2 separate regions of the Homo sapiens genome follow, and region 2 is linked to region 1. The links come from fine-mapping of genetic effects on gene expression. A gene starts in region 1. The other region holds a variant in brackets. All regions are shown on one strand. Distances are from middle to middle. Region 1 holds the start of APLP2 (amyloid beta precursor like protein 2). Region 2 holds the start of ST14 (ST14 transmembrane serine protease matriptase).

What was found. PIP is the estimated chance that this variant, and not a neighbour inherited with it, causes the effect. A credible set is the group of variants that fine-mapping cannot tell apart.
Region 2: its variant is the best candidate, but not a certain one, in a credible set for the expression of APLP2 in whole blood (INTERVAL, PIP 0.71).

Annotation. Positions count from the first base shown.
Region 1 is chr11:130,067,522-130,072,999 of GRCh38, forward strand. APLP2 (amyloid beta precursor like protein 2) reads left to right here and starts at 2,373. Exons shown (of 17, transcript NM_001142276.2): 1 at 2,373-2,561. The coding sequence starts at 2,457. LOC107984432 (a long non-coding RNA gene) reads right to left here and starts at 2,128. Exons shown (of 2, transcript XR_001748444.2): 1 at 1,943-2,128; 2 at 357-1,592. RefSeq lists enhancers at 1,064-1,564, 1,565-2,065 and silencers at 1,982-2,211, 2,602-2,731, 2,802-3,261.
Region 2 is chr11:130,159,692-130,164,897 of GRCh38, forward strand. It overlaps ST14 (ST14 transmembrane serine protease matriptase), which reads left to right and starts at 91. Exons shown (of 19, transcript NM_021978.4): 1 at 91-369. The coding sequence starts at 289. RefSeq lists silencers at 1-89, 170-239 and an enhancer at 1,327-1,826. The variant AC/A (reference allele first, on the strand shown) is at 1,893.

The sequences.
Region 1 (5,478 bases):
AAATTATGTTCCTGTATTTCCTTGTACTATCCCATGATATTAAAGCTCAGTCTTGAAGATACAGTCTCCAAAGCATGAATATCCACGCCACTGAACTCAGATATCTCACTTGCTTTTCCCTGAGTTCAAGGCCCTGATTTTGTAGGTGAGGTAACAGGCCCCAGAGGGGCTACATGTCCTACCCTAGGCTCAACAACTCAATGAGGATTTAGGTAGTCACTTGATACTTTTCCCACATACTTGCAGATGAACCTGCACTTAGTAATACATCGCTTTACCCTCCTACCCCTTACATTTAAGTCACTTCATGCTTTTCACTATTGTACATTCATTTTAAGTTCAATCACACAAAGCGGTGCAGTGAGACAGGTTTTAATATTCACATTTGACAGAGAAGAAAAGAGAGTCCCAAGCGATGGAGGAACTTGCCGGTGATCATGCGGCTGTGTCAGTCAGCTCCGGCTGCTGCAACAAAATAACATAGGCTGGGGGGCTTCAACAACAGGGATTTATTTTTCACAGTTCTTGAAGCCTGGGAAGTCCAAGCTCAAGGTGCCACTTTGGCCCCTCAGTGATGGACCTCTTCCTGGTTTGCAGATGGCGGCCTTCTTGCTGTGTTCGCACATGGAGGAGGGAGGTGAGGGCTGAGGTTGGGGGTAGGGGACAGAGAGTGTGAGAGAAAAGCAAGCTCTTTGGTGTCTCTCCTAATAAAGGCACTCATCCCATCATGACCTGCTACCTCCATGACCTCATCCAAATCCGATTACCTCCCAAAGGCCCCATTTACAAATAACCATCACACTGGGGTTCAGCGCTTCGGCACACACATTAGGGGTGGGGACAAAATTCGGTCCATAGCAAGAGCCAAATTCATGCCAGTTCCAGAACTAGTATCAGCACCCAAGATAACTGGGTTCAATAACACTGGGCAAACATTTATCGAGGACTGCACTGTGAGGGGCACTGCGGCATGACAGACCCAAGTCTTGTCAGTGACCTGAGAGAGGTATGGAATAACTAGGGAGCGAGTGCCACAGTGGGAAACATCCCTCTGAGCAATCAGAAGCGATATTTCAGCCGACTGAGCCGAGGAACAGTGAAAACGCTTCCAACAGGCAGATGTTGGGGAGAGGACATTGCAGGCGCAGAAGAGTGTTAGGAAGGGCTGTGAAATGGAAAGGTGTCGTCTTGGAGGAATCGGGCAGAGCCAGTTTACCCACAGGGAACTGGGCATGTAGGGGAGAGTGGTGCAGAATAAGGCTGGAAAATCCCGAGTTCTTACAGGCGCACTCGTCTACTCCGCGGACAGTCTCTTCCTTTCTATTGTCAGCGTCCTGGGGGTAGGGTTGTGTTATGCATTTAGTTGAACCTGAAGGGACTAGTCCAGGTCTCTCAGAAGGCAGTACCTAACTCACAGGCGACTGAAAGGAAACAAGGCCAGCGGAGCCCTGGCGGTGGCGAGGCTGTGCCAATTGCTAAATGGGGCAGCAGGACGTTTTTCTCTACTGAAGTGGCAATGCCGCGGAGCAGGAAGGCAGAGTAGCAGGTCTCCCGCTAGTGCGTCTCAACCGAAGAAGCGGCGTGATCTCTTCCTAAAACACACGAGGAAGGGGGCCTGGGCTGTGAGGCCGGCGTGGTTCTTGCACCCCTGGTCTCTATCCCTGCCTGGGCAACTGCTGGGAAGGAAGGGTCGGCAAGAGGCCTAAAGACCGGAGGCCAAGGGTGCGGAGCGCGGCCGGACTCAGAGGCGAGGACCCGGCGGAGAGGCCTGGGCGGAGCAGGGCGGGAGAGGCGCGCCCTGAGTAGGGCTCGGGGGAGGACGATGGCTGCCTCCTGCGGTCCTCCCCCTGCCTCGGGGGACGGCCCTTGGCAGACCGTCCCGGACTCCTAATTCATCCTGTTTTTAATAAAACCATTTCCAGAATCAAAAAGAGGGCGGTACCCAAAGGAGTCTGAAGAATGCCCAGCAGGGGCAGGGGAGCGGGGCGTGCCCGTATCGGGAGGCTGAAGGCTGACGGACCAGCGCAGCAGGGACAGATAACCGCGCCGGGGGGCGGAGGCCAGAGCCAGCCCCGCGCCCACAGGGTTGCGGCCCCAGACCCGCCGCGCGCACGCCCCCGCGCCTGGCGGCCACAGGGTCCGGAGCGGGGGCGGGGCCATCCGCGGCCGGGGGCGGGGCCGGGCGGGGGGCGCGCGGTTGGACCGGGCGGGAGGAGCAGGCTCTTCCATCTCCTGATTGGGTCTGGACCGCAAGGGGGCGGGGTCTTGAGGGGTTCTGCGGGCCGGCATTGGGAGCCGCAGAAGGAGGGCGTGGTAATATGAAGTCAGTTCCGGTTGGTGTAAAACCCCCGGGGCGGCGGCGAACTGGCTTTAGATGCTTCTGGGTCGCGGTGTGCTAAGCGAGGAGTCCGAGTGTGTGAGCTTGAGAGCCGCGCGCTAGAGCGACCCGGCGAGGGATGGCGGCCACCGGGACCGCGGCCGCCGCAGCCACGGGCAGGCTCCTGCTTCTGCTGCTGGTGGGGCTCACGGCGCCTGCCTTGGCGCTGGCCGGCTACATCGAGGTGGGGACCGGGCGAACGCCGGAGAGTCGTCTCCTTCGCCCGCCGGAGGAGCGCGGACTGCGGGCGGGCAGCGGGGTCCGCGGCAGGGCGGGCCGGCGGTGCGGCGCCGGGGGTCCGGCTCTGCGGCGGGTCTGGCGCGCCCTCCCCCGCCCGTCCCTGCTTGGCGCAGTGCTTAGCGCTGGAGGTCGGGCTGCCTCAGCCGCCGCAGAGGCCAAATGAAAGGCGTCGGGGCTGCTGGGGGCGGCCGTCCGCCTCGGCCGACCCAGCCCCCAACCCGCCCGCGGCGCCGCCACCTCCTCCGGGGACCCAGTGCCCCCGGGCGCCCGCCCCGCCCTCCCCCGGGACAATGCCAGGGCGCTCCTCTCCCGCCGGAGTCCGCGGCTGGGCTTTCTCCAGGGGCGGCCCCGCGCGGACCCCGTACGCTCCCTCGCGCGGCACCGGGGCCTCGGCTCCGGGCCTCCCACCTGCGAGCGGCGGGCTTCGCCTTTGTTGCCAGGTGGACGCGGCCCCGGCCTTCGCGCGCGGCAGGGATGCTGCGAGCCCCGGGGGAGCTCCCGCGCCAGGCCGCCCGCTGCTCCCTCTGCCGCCTGGGGCCGGGTCGCGGACGCGCATTTTTTAAGTGGCGCTGTTTGCCTGCGTCCGTAGACCGAGGAAACCCGCTCTGGGTGCGTTGACCGCTTTCGTGAGGGTTTCAGTGAGTAGGGAAGGTGCCCGCGAAGGCGTGTAAACTGTTGGAAAAATCGTCCTCTTCGGGTGTCAGAATTCCATCAGTGGTTGTGCTTCGAGGTCGCACCCTGAGCATCCCCGCTGCGAGAAAGGCGAAGCGGCAGGGCCGGGGGTTGGGGAGGCCGCGGGAGGGGGCGGGGGCGGCGGGGTCCGCGGTGCGGGCCGGAGCGGGCAGCCTTGGAGGAGCCCTGCTGTGGCCGAGGGAGACGGCGAGCTTGATCTTTACTTCCCTTCTCGAAGTGGTGCTTGAACTGCTGGTCTGGAATGTGTAGTTCTGGTGTCGTTTATTTCTTCTCCCTCTTCGCTCTTTTAAAAATTACAACTGGTTTCTGCATACTTAGCTAATTTCAGAGAGACCTGAAGACTGGATTTGATTGGGCATTAATTGAGAGCTTTCTTTTAAAGACCTCAGGTTTAGAATATATTTACTTCTACAGAATGTTCAAGTATTTCCACGGGTAAAAATAAATCTAATAAAAAGCCTCTCTGATGGAACGGCTTAACACCTTTGTATTCATCCAGTTTAAAGCTTTGTGACTGTGAGGGTAAGAAAGGAGTTCAGCTTTAAAGAGAAATAGTTAACGTTTATCTACAGAGGATTTTGGATTGCGATTGTTTCAGTGTGTCCACACAATGGTCAGAGTTGTATCTGTGATCCCTGATATGTCGCATGAAAACAGCTAGGTGAGTGAGATGGGAAGAAAAAATAAAGGCTTTCGTATGGAAGATGGGACTTCACTAGTGGGTCGGGTGTCAGAAACCATCGTTCACACTCGCACTCCACTTCCCACTGCTATGACTAATTTGAGGCATTAGTGAATTCACAGTAGAAGACTCAGCAGTTTTAAAGAATTCGTTAATACTTGTGTAGCGGGAAAAAATAATATGAGAATTCATTGTTGTGTGTTAAATTTGATTGTTAGCCACAGCGTTGTTCAGTTGAAAAGTATGGTTGAAGAAAGTAGGAATTAAACATTTCTGAAAAATGGTTTTATGGTAACTCCTGTTCTTTGGAGCTGTATTTTTGCTCACACTTACTAAATGATCTTTCAAGGGGCCTTTTGTCAAGCTATCAGAATTTTATTCATATGAATATAATTTGATTTTGTTTATTTGCTGTCAGGCAAGGGACTGTCGAAGCTTAATTTAGATGAGAGTGGCCTAAATCAGGATGTCTTTGGGAAGGCCCTGATTGAGATTAGCGAAAGGGATTCTGGCCAAATCCCTGATCAAGTTGCTTGGCACAGAATTATTGATTGGCAAATCTTTAGTGTTGCTTGGTGTTGACTGAATTAATCTCTTACACCTGTTTAAAAAGAAAAAGCTCACCTCTGGACTCAGGGTCACTTCCTCTCTTAAATCCGAGACAAGTTCTCCTGTGTGCATGCTCCCATTTGGGACTGAGACAGTATTGTGCTGAAACCCCGCATACTGTGCAGTGGATGACTAGGCTCCTGAGAACCGGAACTTGAGTTTGTTCTGTCACATTTGAAAGAAAGAAGGCCATTTGATTGCCAGTTTTCTGGAAACTCAAACCCAAATTAAAGGATGTCAACTGAGGCAGAGTAGAGAAGGCTTTGTGTTGGTGTTTCTGACAGGTGGTATGGGAGATGTGTAATTGTACCTTGGAGAGAAACCTTGGTGTGCTTCTGATAGGAATATCGTCTTTTTTTTTTTTTTTTTTTTGATACGGAGTCTCGCTCTGTCCCAGGCTGGAGTGCAATGGTGGGATCTCTGGGCTCACTGCAACTTCCGCCTTCCGAGTTCAAGCGATTCTCCTGCCTCAGACTCCCAAGTAGCTGGGATTGCAGGCGCCTGCCACCACGCCCAGCTAATTTTTGTATTTTTAGTAGAGACAGGGTTTCACCATGTTGGCCAGGCTGGTCTGGAACACCTGATCTCAGGTGATCCACCTGCCTCGGCCTCCCAAAGTGCTGGGATTACAGGCGTGAGCCACAGCGCCCGGCCCGTTATTTTTATCATAACTATGTTTTAAAAATCTTTTGATAAATACGATAAACTTCAGTTTTATCAATTAGTTCCTCCTTTTGTAGAGGGAATTTGTTTTACCATCTAAAGCCAGGCTTTCCCAGGGTGTAGCCACAAGCCACATGTGGTTATTGAGTCTGTAGGGTGACTAGTGTGAATGAGGAGTGAATTTTTCATTTTATTTAATTTTAATTAATTTAAG
Region 2 (5,206 bases), 92 kb after region 1:
AGGTGAGCCGGGCAGGTGCGCAGGCGAGCGCGGCGGGCTGGGCGGGCCGAGGCCACACCCTGAAACTACCTGCGTGGGCCGGGCCGGAGTGTGAGAGCGGAGCTGCAGCCGGAGAAAGAGGAAGAGGGAGAGAGAGCGCGCCAGGGCGAGGGCACCGCCGCCGGTCGGGCGCGCTGGGCCTGCCCGGAATCCCGCCGCCTGCGCCCCGCGCCCCGCGCCCTGCGGGCCATGGGAGCCGGCCGCCGGCAGGGACGACGCCTGTGAGACCCGCGAGCGGCCTCGGGGACCATGGGGAGCGATCGGGCCCGCAAGGGCGGAGGGGGCCCGAAGGACTTCGGCGCGGGACTCAAGTACAACTCCCGGCACGAGGTGAGCGCGGGCCGGGGACCCGGGGCGCTGGGAAGCTCCTGCCCGCCCGACCCTGCAGCGCGGCGCTGGGCTCGGCCGGCTCCCCTGGCGTGTCCGTCGGTGGCCGAGCTCTGGGCGCACAGGTGGAATTTCCTGTTCAGCGGGTGCCGGGCCGCGGGCGGGCGGGGCTGGCCGGACCTTTGGTACCGGACCGGCTGCGCCCCGCCAGGGGGAGGCGGGAAGCCCCTGGGCCTTCCTGCGCCCTCGGTCCTTTCTTTCCCTGAGTTGAAAAAAGGGGCTCCGTCTCGGCCCCTCCATGACTCTCGCGCTGTTAGTGAACATCTGGAAGAAACCAGGGGCTTGGAGTGGGGTTATTTGGGAGGAAGTGAAATTTCAGGAGGGTTTGGAGTCTCAGCCATCCTTGGCCTCTGCAGAAAGTTTCTTTCGTCTCTCTCCTTCCCCGTCAAAAGGCGCTTTGGGACCTCGCAGAGGACAACTGGGAGGCCAGGGCTTTGGCTGCCATACGGGCTGGAGCTAAGAACTCCAGAGTTGGGCTTGCCTGGGCTTCTCGAGAGGGGATGGAGCCCTTTGGGAAGGCGGCTGTATGGGAAGGGATGTGGGAACACACATGTCTTGAGCCTTTTGCGAAGTACCGAAACAGGAAGCTCTTCTTTGGCAGAAAGAACAATGAAAGACCTATTGAAAGATCTCAAAAAGATTACATGTTCCTGTATGGAGTTGGGGATGGGTCGCTAGTCACTTCATTGACGGACCCACCTAGGTGGTAGTGCCCGGGCGGGACCAGCAGCCAGGTCTCTACCCTCTCTGTCCAAGGCAGACCCCCAGGTTTCCTGGAAGGCCAGGGCATACCAGGTCAGGGCGGCGCTGAGAGGCAGGGGCTGTGTGGCAGAGAGTTTTGCTCCTCTGCAAATGATGGCCTCCCTGCCCTGCCAACCCTCACTTTCTCCCCTCCTTCCGGGTGCCCCTGGGCTCCATAGTCTCCGCCGTTGCTCCCTAAGTCAGGCCTGATTTTGGTGCTGTCTCAGATCAATTCCTTTTGTCCAAGCAGCATCCCGACCTAGGGAGCTTGCAGAAAATCAGACGCTGGGGCTTTGGAGGCTGCCTGCACCACAGACAGGACCTGGGGCTGGGCTCTGCTATTTTCTCCACTTTTCACCCTCAGCAAGGAGGAAAGCTTCCAGTGGACCTGAAGGCTTGGGCCCTTCCCCTGGCTGTGCCTGTGCCCTGCTGTGAGGCAGATTCACCTTCTCTTCCTTGCTGTAATTGCTATGTTTGTGTCCTTGCTAATTGCCTACTTGGGGTTCTAGACTCCCTGCCTCTTCAGCAGAGAACCTGCTGTTTGGAATTTGTTATTTCAGGGCAGTCCGGTGCCCCCACCCCAAGTTTGTTCTCCCTGACTTCCCTTTCTAGGACTCTCCTGCCCACACGGGGAAAGCAGGGTCTTCCTGGTCGTGTGGTCCAGCCTCCTCTCTGAGCCATCTCACCACCTGACAAGCAGCCAGGCTGGGGCTCACCTTCCACTC[AC/A]CCCCAGGATCCCACATTCAGCGGACTTGTCTTGTCACCTGCAAGCCCTGGCTTTAGTTTCCCCCATCCCTGCTCATTTCCTCCTCCTCTGCGAAGCTCATTTGCTCTCTGCGCCCTTGGGCTGTTCCTTCCCCCTCTGCCATTTTCATTCTCTTGGCTTGCTCTTTGTCTTTTCTCCTGCCGAGCTTTATTGAACTAACTCAGTACCTAGTCCCATGGGTGAAGGGAAGGCTCTCAGAGACCAGTAAGATGTGGTTGTTTCCTTTAAAGAACATCCAGTCTTGAGAGCGAAACTAAGAGACGAATGCCAAAGTTAGCTGTGAGGCGGAGTGTCCAGAGGAAATTGGCCAAAGCTCATTTCCATGTCTTGCAGATTCCTCCCATCCCTGGCCTCACCAGAAATCCCAGTCCCTGGGATCACCCTGTAGTGTGTGTTTGCAGCTAGGATGTCCATCCCCGGCCGGGAGGTGTGGCTGCTGCCCCTGGGTTTATTATCTGGGTCAGCAGAGCCTGGCCCACAGGGTGCTGTTGTTTCTGGGTTCCTTGTCCCCAGTTGCATCCATCCGTGCACCCTTGTTTGGTGGTATTTGTATCTGGCTGTCCCCTTCCCAAGGCTGGTGGTGTGGCCCCTGCCCCACCCCTGCTGTTCCCATCAAGTGTTCTGCGTGGCCTTCAGAGTCCTGATGCACGTTACTGCATCTGGGGATGGTGTGAGCCCTGCCTGCAAGCAAGCAGGGAAACAGATGCCACTTCTTATGGCCATTAATGAGAGCCAGGGAGCCTGCCTCCCTGAGGGTCTTGATTCCTGTTGAGTATTTGATGGTGAATATGAAGCTGCCTTGACATCCACTGGTTCCTTTTCCGATCACAATTGCCCTAGGTAAGACTCAGCATCCCTTAGGCATCCAGAGACCAAGTTTGGAAAAATCGGATGTTGTGTGGCCAAAATCAGATGTCTAGGGGCCAGGGTGTACACCTCTGGCTATTCAGAGGGTCACCTGCTTGTTAATTTGTCAACCATTCAGGCATTCATTCACATAACAATATCTGCTAGGTAACCCACTGACTGAGCCTGTGCCAGGTGCTGGGAAATAGCAGTGAGGAAGACCCTAGACTCACAGCCCCTGTCCTTGGGACCACCCAAGGTAGTGTGGGGTACAGGGAACTGAATTCTGACTCATGAGTACTAGCTTCTCGATATGCACTGGGTGAGCACATGGCATCTCTCTAACCCAGGCTGGAAGGGCCAGGTCAGCAAATTAGGGCTGCAGGCATCTGTGATGTGGTGGCAGGAGGTAACATGCAGCCAAGACCCGGGGCCGCCTTGTCTAGCCACGTGATCTCAGAGATGTTACTCAATATCTCTAAGCCTTGGTTTCTGTGGCTATAAAATGGTGATGACATATATGTTCCAGGTTTGTTGAAAGGATTAAGAGGGGTACTTTACATGAAAGCCCTTTGTAAGTTGCAGTGTGGTGTTCAAATGATGCAGCTTGAGTTTTTGAGTTGAAAGGGACTTGAGACAAGCAAGAAGATCGTATAGTATCAGTAGGTCGCCTGTCGAGAGGCTGAGAACCCAGGCTGTCAGTGGGGCCCTGACCTCACAGAGGAGCCATCCTGCCCTGCCAAACACAGGGAAGTGCCCCCAGGATTCAAGGAACTGCTCGCCAGCAACAGAGACCTCTTCCTAAGACCTTCTGATTTTCATTCCCCTGCTTTACCCAGCTTCTAGGAGAAATATCTTTCTATGAAAAGAAAATGTGTGCCAGCTGCATATCCCTTTCTCCTTCTCATCCCCTGCCCCTCCCACCATAGAAAATTAAACTTTTATTTTGTTTTGTTTTTTAGACATGGGGGTCTTGCTATGTTGCCCAGGCTGGACTCAAACTCTTGGGCCCAGGTGATCGATCCTCCTTGTCTCAGACTTCTAAGTAGTTGGGATTACAGGCGTGAGCCACTGTGCCCACATAAAACTTTAGAGAACTGCCTTTTTTGTTCTCTAGAGCATGTGCTGGGCAGGTGTGTGCAGTGGGTGAGGAAGAGGGTTGGGAAGGCAGAAAGCAGCAGGAAGCTAGGATTGTCCTGTAGGTGGGGCTTCAGCTGCTGGAGTGGACCGGAAATCTGCCTTCTCCAGGGGCTTTCTGGAGCCTTCCCTCTGCCTTGGTCCTGAGAACACCTGGAAATTCCTCGTTTAGGAGTTGAGAAAACTGAGGAAGAGGAGAAGATGCCCCTAGTTTGATGGCTGCCTTCGCCTGCTAGCAGTGGAAATGGTCAGAGGGTGGACCTGCTCGAGCCGACTTGCTGGCCTGTTGCCACGTTGTCACCGGCTGCGGAAGGAGAACGAGTCACAGCTCCCTCCCCCTACCTGACCCTCACTCTGCTCCCTGGGAACCAGACTACCAGACTGCCTACTGCTGTGGCCAGTGGCTTCTGTCCCTCGGAACACTGTGGCCCTCAAGTTCCCTGATGTCTGCTCCTTCTCTGGTCTGTGGTTCTGCCAAGGCTGGTGGCTCATGTCTCTTTTAAAAGAGAAGTTGTCTTTGGAAGAGGAAGGGAAACGTGACAGAGTCCCCTGGGAGCCCAGGTCCTGAAGATGATGTTGCTTCTGATATTGTGCAATGATTACTGGAGTGTCTAGAATACTAATAATGATGAACACTAATAATCGTTAGCATTTATTGAGCATGGCTGGCTGCTTGTCTTTTTTCCTGCCAAGCTTCATTGAACTAACTGTGTACCTAGTCCTGGGTCAGGCATGGCTGAAGGGAAGTAAGATGTGGTCTTACTAGTCTTTGAGACCAAGTATTACCCTTCTCAGAGACAAGTGTTGTTATTACTGTTTTTTTTTTTTTTTAGACAGGGTCTCCCTCTGTCACCCAGGCTGGAGTGCAATGGTGCAATCATGGCTCACTGCCACTTTGACCTCCCGGCTCAAGCAATCCTCCTGCCTCAGCTTTCTCAGTAGCTGGGACTACAGGTGGGCACCAGCACGCCTGACTAATTTTTGTATTTTTTGTAGAGGCAGGGTCTTGCTATGTTGCCCAAGCTGGTCTTGAACTCCTGGGCTCAAGTGATCTGCCCACCTCAGCCTCCAAAAGTGCTGGGACTACAAGTGTGAGCCCCCACACCCAGCCTTATTATTATTATTATTATTATTATTATTATTATTTTGAGATGGAGTTTCGCTCTTTTTGCCCAGCTGGAGTGCAATGGTGTGATCTCAGCTCACCACAACCTCCGCCTCCTGGATTCAAGCGATTCTCCTGCCTCAGCCTCCCGAGTAGCTGGGATTACAGGCATGCACCACCATGCA